2 separate regions of the Homo sapiens genome follow, and region 1 is linked to region 2. Evidence: fine-mapped QTL for protein levels in blood plasma. Region 2 holds a variant in brackets. A gene starts in the other region. All regions are shown on their reverse strands.

Region 1 (5,329 bases), not on the chromosome of region 2:
CCATGCCTGGCCACCCTTGGCTTTCTAATTGCTGAATGCAATGGACATTTTCCCATTGTGATCTTATTTGATCTCTGTGGCTTATGCTTCAAGATCTCCCTCTTGAAACTCTTTTCTCCTTAGCTCAATCTTTGATTCCATGAGCAAATCTCCAGAGCTCAAGCTTTGATTCCATACAATGTAGAGTTTGTGTTGTTTTTACTTAAAACAGGAGGAGGCTGAGCAAGTATATGAGAGCACTGAACTTAGTAGATGAGAGGAGGGCACACTTCTAGGAGAGAAGCACAAAAGATACAGGTGGGAAGGGAGGTAGGCAAATTCATAGATGAAGTGGTCAGAAGGTGAGTGTTACACACACTCCTCCCCCTGCACATATACAGGCAAATTTTTAAAAACCTAATTTTCTCAGTAGTGTTCAATTTACTACTGCAAGTGAGGTGATCAGGAGAGCAGGTAGGCTTCTGAACAGTGCTGAAAGTAAATGACCTTTTGCAAGGGGAGAGGACGCTGAGCAGGGACAGGTAGCAAGGAGGGCTCAGCTGCTGTGAGAGCAGAGGTTAGGCTCAAGAAAGAAAAGGAGCTGAAAGATGCTTGCAGTGTGTGCACATGAAAATACGAAACTCTGGCCCAGGGTATTAAAAGCTCAACAGGAAGAAAAGACATTTGCCTTTTAATATTTTTCTTTTAATTAAGCCCTGAAGACCCTCCATTGCAATTCTACAGCCTCCCAACAGCAAGGACTTTCTCAGCGCTTTCAGGCTACCCAGCCGGCGCAGAGGATCCTAAGCCTCAGCAGAGGCAAAACCTCCCCAGGCTGTAGCAGGGCAAGTGCTGATTTGGTGAATAATTAATGCCTCACTCACCTAGACCCCAAGGCTCCCGCCTGCCTCAGACTCGTGCAGGCTTACGAACTCGTAAAGCAGCTGACTCTATGGTCTAATGATTAAACTTCTCTGGGCCTTATTTCGTTACAGCTAAGTTAAAAACTGACCAGCTAGCCGCTTAAACTCTTCTCCCGGAAATGACTGGAAAACAAGCCAAGTCTCCTGACTGGACTGACAACTAACTATACTCCCTGAATTCCAGCCACATTTGCCCAGAGCAGGACTCCAAGCTTTGACTCTGTCCATTGCTAAGGGTAGCAGAATGGGTGGTGGGGTCCCGTCACCAACCTCTTTTCCCTCTCCAACCCCTAGAAGGTGGTGAGTTTCTATGTACCCCTAATTTCACCAGGCAGGTTACACTGTGTTGTTAGAGACCCTTCATTAGAGGCCCTCTCCCCACCTCAGCATTTGCACACCATGGAGAATCGTCGAGATGAGCGTTGTGGGGAAGTGCCTCTCATGAGAGATTTCCACTTCCTGGCTGTGTCAACTCTTCCACGGCGAGATGGGAAACGGAGTCAGTAACAATAATAGTGTCATTTGAGGAATTACCTGAGCTAAAGCCATCATCTGGATATAGGTAGGAAGATTTTTTTTTTTTTTTGAGACGTAGTTTTGCTCTTGTTGCCCAGGCTGGAGTGCAATGGCACGATCCCGGTTCACGGCAACCTCCTTCTCCCAGGTTCAAGCGATTTTCGTGCCTCGGCCTCCCGAGTAGCTGGGATTACAGGCGCCCGCCACCACGCCCAGCTAATTTTTGTATTTTTAGTAGAGATGGAGTTGCACCATGTTGGAAGTAGATTTTTTAAAAACAGAACTGGACGTTCAATTCAATGCCGTGACCACCTGGGTAACAGGGATTACAGATAGGTCCTGAATAAATGTGTGCGCAAAGAATTGCAGGGCGCACAGAGCTTCTCCTCCTTCCTAGGAAGACACTGTAGATGTCGCGCCCATCCCAAGCTCTTGGATACTAGGGGCGGAGAGGAAGTGTCACTTTCTAAAGAACAAACACGACAGGTCGACCCTGTTTCTAAAGGGTTAACCCGCCTTCCCCGAGCGCACCGCACGAGAGTTTTAGCCGTGGGCACGTTTGGTGATTCACTTCTTGCGAACGTAAATGCGCGAGTCCGCGGTAGGTCCCGCCGGCCCCCTGGCTGGGCAACCTGAAAACCCACCTCGGAGACGCCCCCACGCATCCGCCCCCCTCGCTGGACGGCCCCGCCGCGCGCCGTTCTGGGACGCGCACCCCGGGGCGGACCCGCCCTGGGACCTGGAAGCGCCCCAGCCCCGCAGCGATCGCAGATTCGGCTTTCAAACAAAAGAGGCGCCCCGGGGGGTGGGACCGGGACCTCACCCGGTCCTCGCAGAGTTGCGGCCGCCCGCCCCTTCAGCCCCGGCTCTCCGTATGCGCATGAGCAGAGGCGCCTCCCTCTGTTCCTCCCAAGGCTAAACTTTCTAATTCCCTTCTTTGGGCTCGGGGGCTCCCGGAGCAGGGCGAGAGCTCGCGTCGCCGGGTGAGGAGAACAAAGTGGCTGCACGATTTTCCCCACTTTCCAGCCCACCCCCCGCTTCCGTGGGAGCGACAGGAAATGGAAGGGCGCCTCTTCTCTCTTTGAACATTTGCCTTTTTTCCCCTCCTTTCCACCTCTCCAGAAAGGAAGACGGGAAGAAAGGGCAGGCGGCTCGGCGGGCGTCTTCTCCACTCCTCTGCCGCGTCCCCGTGGCTGCAGGGAGCCGGCATGGGGCTTCTCCAGTTGCTAGCTTTCAGTTTCTTAGGTAATTCCGTGGAAACGGTGCGGGGAGGCGGACGGACTTGGGCATGGGGAAGGAAAACCCAAAAGCTGCTTGCTCACCTTCGTGGGATCCTGGGGGCTTGGGAGAGGGACTGGATGGAAATGACGCCCCTGGGATTAAACGCCACCGCCCTTGCTTCGGTGGTGGCTGGAGACAGCGCACGCGGAGCGCCGCGGACCCTCATCCCCCGGGCTCTGCGCCCAAGCCCCGGCCCCTGCGGCCTCCCGCGGCCCCCGCTCAGGGTTTTGCACCCTCGGCCGGTTCACCCTGGGTTTCCCCACCGCAGAGGGCAGGTTCCCTGGGGTTGGCGGTGCTGACCGAGGAGGGCTCTCCAAAAATCCATTGCCCAGGAGAGTGCCTGAGCTGAGCGGAGGCTTCATTCTGGGAACAGATGGGGGCCATGTGGCTTTAATTAACCATCTCTGTTTGTCTCCGGATGGCACCAGAAACAGCAGGACCTGGCGCTTCCCTGGAATGGAGAAGCCTTGAAACCACTCCAGAGCCCCAGGGACTGTCCATGGGCTCCCCTAGCTCCGGAAAGCGGCGTCCACCGCGAGCCCCGGCGCCTCGTCCCCAGCGAAGCGCCGGTGACCCTCGCGCGTGCACGCACACGCACTCTCGCTTCCCAAGCTCACAGATCTCCACGCGCACACTCACACCGAGGATGCGCGGGCTGCCGCGTGCACGCGGGTTCACGTGCGTGGGTGTGTGGCCCTTTGGGGGTCAGCCTCCCTGCGCCGGGCTCCGGACACGTCGAAGTGGAGGGTCTACACATCCACCCTTTGTTGGGGGAGCTGCTCCCCGGGGCTGATCAGGGTGGGCGCGAGCGTCGGTGGGTTTCCCGGGAGGGAGGCTCTCGCTGCTGGACAGACCTGATGACGTGTGTGGGTTTCTTTCCGTGTCCTTCTCCTTTCGGAGTCCCTGCCTTCCCAGCCTCTCCTGCGCTCATCTCTCCATTGTCTTTTCTGTGCATTTTGCTTTCTTCCGAATGGACTGTCCTCTCTCCGCACCCACTCCCCCGCCCCCGCTTGTTCGTTTTTTTCGGGCTCCACTCCCTGCTTGTGTCCCCCCAACTCTGTTGCCTGTCCTTCCCGCAGCCCTGTGCAGAGCCCGAGTGCGCGCTCAGGAACCCGAGTTCAGCTACGGCTGCGCAGAAGGCAGCTGCTATCCCGCCACGGGCGACCTTCTCATCGGCCGAGCACAGAAGCTTTCGGTGACCTCGACGTGCGGGCTGCACAAGCCCGAACCCTACTGTATCGTCAGCCACTTGCAGGTGAGGGCTGAGAGCGGGGTTCGAGGCTCTGCTAGCGCCTCCTCCCGTCCAGACCTAAGGGGCAGGCCCTGGGGACTCCGCATCCTTCCAGCAATCCAGATAGGAAGCGCAGCCAGCCGGGGAGTCCCGGGATTAGGCTTGTAGCTCAACCTTTCGCCCCATCTCAGTTTGCACAGTTGCATCCGCCACACATTTCCTGCCGGCGCGGTGAGTATGGAAAGGCAGGACTGCCGACAGCCCTGGCTGCCCTGACCCAGAGCCTCCAAAAGGCCTGATTGTGTGTGTGTTTTTTAAAACTTTAGTTTTGGAAGTGTGCATTAAAGGTGATTTATCCTCTTTTTAAAACCCTTGGGTTTCCCCACCCCCCTCTACCGCATCTTCACTTGGGTAAAGAGGATTCCAGCAATGACAGGCGTCTTGCAAGGTGATTCCAATCACTGAACGAACCCGTTTTCCTCTCCTCATTTGGTGCTGTTCCCAACTAGATATCAGGATCAGATGCTTGCTTTTACGAAATGCCCTGGTTGCCATGGTACCCTGATACAGGAAGACCACAGTGAAATTTCAGGGTGTTACCTGTTTCTAAAAGAGGGCCCAAATTTTAGATTTCAGGGGTCATATTTATACAAAGTCAAAAGTAATTTTAAAAGAAGACACAAAGTGTAAAATATTCAGAATCAGAATACTTTTCCTTCATTTTTAAAAAGGAGGCTGGCCGGGAGCAAAATGGCTCCATGCCTGTAATCCCAGCACTTAGGGAGGCTGAGGTGGGAGGATCACTGGAGCCCAAGTGTTCAAGACCAGCCTGGACAACATAGACTCAGTCTCTACAAAAAATTTTTAAAACTTAGCTGGGCGTGGTGGTCCACACCTGTGGTCCCAGCTGTCTGGGAGGCTGAGGTGGGAGGATCACTTGAGCCCAGTAGGTCGAGGCTGCAGTAAGCGATAATCAGTCCACTGCATTCCAGCTTGATCAACAAAGGGAGACCCTGTCTCAAAAAATTTTTTTAAATAAAGGCTGATATTTCTGGCCTCTAACAAAAGCAGAAAGTATCAGTTTCACATTCGGGGCAAGTTCCAAGCTAATTGCTCAGAACATGGTCAGCCCACCCACCTGTACAATTGCCCTTCAGAAGGAGGACAGAGTATTGTGTGTGGTTTGCACAGCAGATCCCTTAAAATGGAGTCACTTTTACAAAGCAGAAAGCCCATTCTGGAGACCTGATCAATTAGACCAAAGGAATGTGGTAAAGTGGATTCCGTTCATTTGCTTCCAGGTTTATACAGAGATGTCTAGACTGCTTCCTCCTGATTAGAAGGGAGGCTGTAATTAAACTTTTTTAAACTTTTTTTTTTTTTGAGTTCTGGTGATTGT
Region 2 (5,372 bases):
AGAAAAAAAAAAAGAAAATTAACACTTTAATATGTACTTTTAATCATCTTAGATTAAAGAGTGTAGCCTGATAGCTTTAAGAGTTAATACTTTGTACTTGCCTTATATTTCTAATGCTCACAAAGCATCCTAGACTATAGCATAATTAAAAATTTTACTTCCAACTATTTTTACACTGCAAAAGTATGCCTAGATCAAAGCATTTTGTATTTATTTTCTTCAGGCTCTCTCACTGCATTATACCATCAACCTTATTAAGTTAGTGTACCCTATGAAGATGCATGAGAGAAATAAGCTCTCATTTGTTTAAATATCCCACCTACAATAATGTAGGTGATGACAGAATTAGTGAAAATGGGAACTCCTTTTGCTTTGTGACAGAAACCACATTTAATAGGCCTAATTTTAGATGTAGTCACTGATTCTGTCCCATGATAAAAGAATAAGATGTGGAATGTGCCAAACAGAACTTCTAAAGGTATATGTTAAATCAAAGAGTGTTCCTTTGAGTTTGCACAAAAAAAAAAAAGAGAGAAAAATCTCATTGATTTTACAGAAGAATTAAGGGAAAATATCACTCTATGGATTGCTTGATGTGAGGGAATTCTAGAGCATTTTGCTTTAGTCTGATGCTTAGTAGACAAGTCCCCTGAGTAGGAAGCATGGCTAATTCTGTACTTTAAAGTGCCTAATGTGGTGTTGACATACTCAAATGTTAAATAATATATTTTAACATGAAGGGAAAGCTCAGAGCTTTCATGAGGTAAAGCTGAAAAATAGTTATACATGCCCTTGACTCACAGAAAATAAAGAGGCAAAAGCTCACATTCATTTATTCATTTCAGGAAAAAGCCTAATAGTCTTGTGTTTAGCACATTTTGGATTTACATTTCCTAGATTTTCAGAGGTTCAAATCCTCCCTCAGAAGAAAATTTATCTAATAGCTCTCAATATCAGTCTTTTTTTTTTCCTGAAAAGCCCTATCCCCCTTTCTGGCACTCACACTTGAAATTATTGTACTAAAAATGTTAAGTTTTTGCTTCTTTTTAAAATCTACAATATACTTAAGTACATCAAATCGTGCACTTTAAATTGGTCCATTGTATGTTATGTGAATTACATCTTAAAGCTGTAAAAAAAAA[AG/G]AAAGCCCACTAAACTATACCAATAAACTGTATATACTTAGTGCCTTCTTTCATCTTTCTTTTTTGACTAGTTCTTTTGATAGGTAAAAATTCAAACCAAAATAATAATTTCAAATAAAATGTTTCCAGATATGCCAAAAGGAAGTACTTTGAAAATGATTTAAGTGAACAAGAGACTCCATTCACAGCTTAGTCACTCAAAATTATCATTTATTTTAATAGTAACAAATTTATAATTTCCACACTAGCTCTATTGGCTGATTTAATATTAGACAAAGTTTTTTTTTTTTCTGCAGATTCAACAAAGTGTGGATTCACTTACTCATTGAATCAATACATTTAAACTTTAAATCAAACTGTTTTCTTTGGGGAGTGTGTACAAAAATAACTGCTTCCAGGCCGGGCGCGGTGGCTCATGCCTGTAATCCCAGCACTTTGGGAGGCCGAGGTGGGCGGGTCACGAGGTCAGGAGATCAAGACCATCCTGGCTAACATGGTGAAACCCTGTCTCTACTAAAAATACAAAAAATTTAGCTGGGCGTGGTGGCGGGCGCCTGTAGTCCCAGCTACTTGGGAGGCTGAGGCAGGAGAATGGCATGAACCCGGGAGGCGGAGCTTGCAGTTAGCCGAGATTGTGCCACTGCACTCCAGCCTGGGCGACAGAGTGAGACTCTGTCTCAAAAAACAAACAAACAAACAAACAAACAAAACTGCTTCCAAATGAAGATACAATGCCCCCACTTCAAGTGACCTACAGCCTAATGGGGACTACCAACAAGTAAGCTGGCATGTTGCTACACTGTACTTACACTACAGAAACAACTGTCATGTAATGGTCAACAAACATCTGGCAACTGCCAAATAAGTGCTGGTAAACCAACAATTAAGCTATTCCATTATGTGAAATGTGGCACATAGTTCTGTAAACATGAGTTAGCCCGTAGTAATAGAAGTGCAGTATCACTGCTAGAGTTGTAATAGTAGCTATATTTATGTGATTGGACCAATGTTAACATTCATTTTCAAAGAGAAGATCTCAGGGAAGAGTTTTGATGGCTTGGGAGAAGTAAAGGAACCTTGGGCAGAGACCATATCTGGGCCTAAGGCAGTTGTAGTCCGAGCTGACCCTGTGTGACTAGAAGTCCACACGAGTATGCAAGGGAATTGAAGCTGAAAGAAGAAGTCCTGAAGGCAAATATTACTACCCTCCCAAGCCGAACCTACACCAAACCTAAACCTCTTGTATTTTCAAACGCGAATACTGTCATGAGCATATAAATGACAGAGTTAGGTCACTTGCATGATAAGGTGGCAGCTGGGCAGTGGCAGTGCAAGCAGAAATCCCACTGGGCTGAAAATTTACAGGAAAACCATGAGCTTTAGTTTGGTTCTTCCTCCAAATTGTCTAACTGGTCACTTAACCTCTCTAGTTCTGTCCTGACTTGTTAACTCTCAAAGAACATGACTCTTTGTGTTTAGCATGTTTTCTGATGGTTAATGAGTCAGCAAATGAAGGAAATGTCAAGCACTGAAGATAAGAAGAAATATTATTTTAATGGTGGTGTTTTGAAGTCTGACAGTTAAAGGATTAATTAAAGATGTGTTTATAGAAGCTGGCTGTCTTTGTAATCACTGGTGGATCTCAATATCTACAAAACAGGACCCCATCCTTTTTTCTTGCTAGCCTTTTTTCATTTCTTAATGCAAGATTTTCCTCTGTATGTTACTTTCGTGTCTTGTTCCATGCAGAAGGGATAAGATGATCTAGTAATAAGTAAGTTTTGGTTATATTATAAAAGATAATGAATTAACCCTCTTAAAATGCTTCAGAAATTCTTAGATGAATGCAAATTATTGTTTGGGGGAACTGCCAAATCTTGAACATCTCATTGAATTGAAGAGACAGAAAAGAGTTATCTTCCTATGAAAGAATGGTTGATGGTTATTGTTTTAAGATATTTCCATAGCTAATGGGTATTTATTGTAAATTTCTGCTTTAATAAATCTTTTCCTTCTTTCTACAAATCCACTATGTAATGACTTATGCAGTGTGCCTTAAGGTATTCTATCCTGGGCCAAGGCAAACTATTTTCCTCAGGACTGTTATCTATTATAACAAGTAAAGTCATAGCAATTGTCTAGAGAGGACCCTTGTAAGAAATAACAATATTTTTGCTGTCTGAAGGGTTTATCAAGCCAAGTGACAGGAATGTCAGCTAACATTCATTGTCTCTGAACTCGTATTTGGAATACAATTAAGAAATAGATAAACAAGGAAAACATACTGATTTGGGGTTCCCCAAAGGATAAAGTTTCCTCCCCTCAAAAAAGAATCTGATGTGACTCATTTGGATAATAATAAGTATTTGGCCTTTAAAAAAAGCTTTATTATATACAAGGTATATGACATGATGTTTTGATACACATATATATAGTGATTAGTGCAGTCAAGCAAATTGTTATATCCATCATCTCATATAGTTGCCTTTCTTTTCTTATTTTTGCTTTGTTTTTGTGGTAAGAGAACCTCAAATCTACTCCTGGCAAATTTCCAGTATACAATCCAACATGATTAACTATAGTCCTCATTAGATCTCTAGACTTTTTCATCCTGCATAACTGCAACTCTGTGGCATTTTTAAGAGTCTAAAATGTTGTTCCAGTGACATGAATGAGCATTTCTAAAGTAAAATATTATACCTATCAAAAATTGTAAAAGAGCTGAACCAAAATTTTGTATAGATCTGATGTTCAATGCAAACAGTATTCTCAACATTGAAACTGAGTGTTACGTCTTCTTTGATTTAATCCCAGTGGTCAGTTTGGTGACTGAATCAAGTGTTTAAAAAAAAAAAAAACTGGTCATAGCTGAGATTCATTTAGATCAGATGAAGATGATCCCTGTGAACAGAAAAGGAACTAAGGGACTTTCAGCCCCTCAGCTGACATGCCTTTTCTTTGCCATCAAAGTGTTATGATGTTATTAAGTGTCTTATGATAGAGTTGGTCTCATTTTCAGTGACCATTTATTTAGCCAGTTCATTTTATCATAATTTCACCCCAGCCCATGAAAGACACTGCTCTTCTTAAGAACTCCAACCTGATTCTGACTTCCCTTTGAAAAGTTTACAACCAGTGTCATTTCACCCCAAGAAGGGCTTGCTGCAGGTAAAATTTCTAAGTTTTAGAAGTTTACCTTTGAAATCTACAATTTTTTTTTTTTTTTTTTTTTTTGAGACAGGGTCTTGCTCCGTTGCCCACACTGGAGTGCAGAGGCACAATCTTGGCTCACTGCAACCTCTGCATACCAGGTTCAAATGATCCTCTTGCCTTAGCCTCCCAAGTAGCTGCGACTACAGGCATGTACCACCAAGCCTGGCTAATTTTTGTACTTTTTGTAGAGACAGGGTTTTGCCATGTTGCCCAGGCTCATCTCAAACTCCTGGATTTGAGTGATCCACCCGCCTTGGCCTCCCAAAGTTCTGGGATTATAGCTGTGAGCCGTGGCACCTGACCATCTCCCATTTCCTTGTGTGTACTCTCTACCACACACACCCCACCCCACACTGAGTGATCTGGCAGTACTGTAGTCCAGAAAGTTTTATTTTCTTATCTAAATCTTGGGGTACACACTTTACCATCATCAAGCATATCTCCAAGCATACCTTCCACACACCCCTTGGCCTGGCTTCCTGAAATGTTTATGCTCACAGATATTTTGTGAAAGCATCCTGTGTAATAGTTACAGTCCAGTCAGAAAACAGAAATCACACTAGTTATTTTCACAGAGAGCATTCAACATAGGCATTTGGTGAAAGGGACATTAGTAATCTTAAAAAGCAAAACAGAACACAATGGAAACAAGATAACGCTTTTGAAAGCCGTTACCTTCTCTAGGGCTGAGAGGACAAAAGGAAAAGGTGGGGGTCAGCAGATCCTAGAAGGCCAGAGGAGGAGCCTTGTGGAGTTGGGACTCGGTCCTCTGAGAAAGGAAGCCACCCAGCTAGTGCTGGGATTGATACCTCAGGAGCTGGGCCTCAGATCTCTGAGGAGAGAACTGCCAGACTACTTGTGATACCCGTGAGAGTAATGAAGTTGACTCTGGGAGCACTGAAGGAAGCTGGAAGCCGGAACCAACTGTGTAGCTGCCAGAGTAAAGTACCATTGCTGAGGCAATGTGGGTGGAACATTAAGAGCACAGGAAGGAGCAAGTTCTTTTTCCCTCCTCC

Which allele goes with the higher level. Alleles are on the strand shown, and positions count from the first base shown. The strength of an association depends on the size of the effect and on how common the allele is.
In carriers of allele G in region 2, the plasma level of the protein whose gene starts at base 2,351 in region 1 tends to be higher than with AG alone (weak association).

The links. A credible set is the group of variants that fine-mapping cannot tell apart. PIP is the chance, under the fine-mapping model, that this variant and not a neighbour inherited with it causes the effect. The UK Biobank Pharma Proteomics Project read protein levels with antibody pairs (Olink). The fine-mapping took linkage between variants from a reference panel, not from the people measured, so its PIPs are less certain.
Region 1: LAMB1 starts here. The variant in region 2 is the best candidate, but not a certain one, in a credible set for the plasma level of the LAMB1 protein (UK Biobank, PIP 0.52).

The regions. Positions count from the first base shown.
Region 1 is chr7:108,000,183-108,005,511 of GRCh38, reverse strand. It overlaps LAMB1 (laminin subunit beta 1), which reads left to right and starts at 2,351. Exons shown (of 34, transcript NM_002291.3): 1 at 2,351-2,401; 2 at 2,541-2,663; 3 at 3,779-3,954. The coding sequence starts at 2,627. RefSeq lists an enhancer at 3,913-4,513.
Region 2 is chr15:36,986,413-36,991,784 of GRCh38, reverse strand. All of the region lies in intron 8 of MEIS2 (Meis homeobox 2), which reads left to right. Among named protein-coding and RNA genes, the nearest start is that of MIR8063, 16 kb to the right of the region's middle. The variant AG/G (reference allele first, on the strand shown) is at 1,143.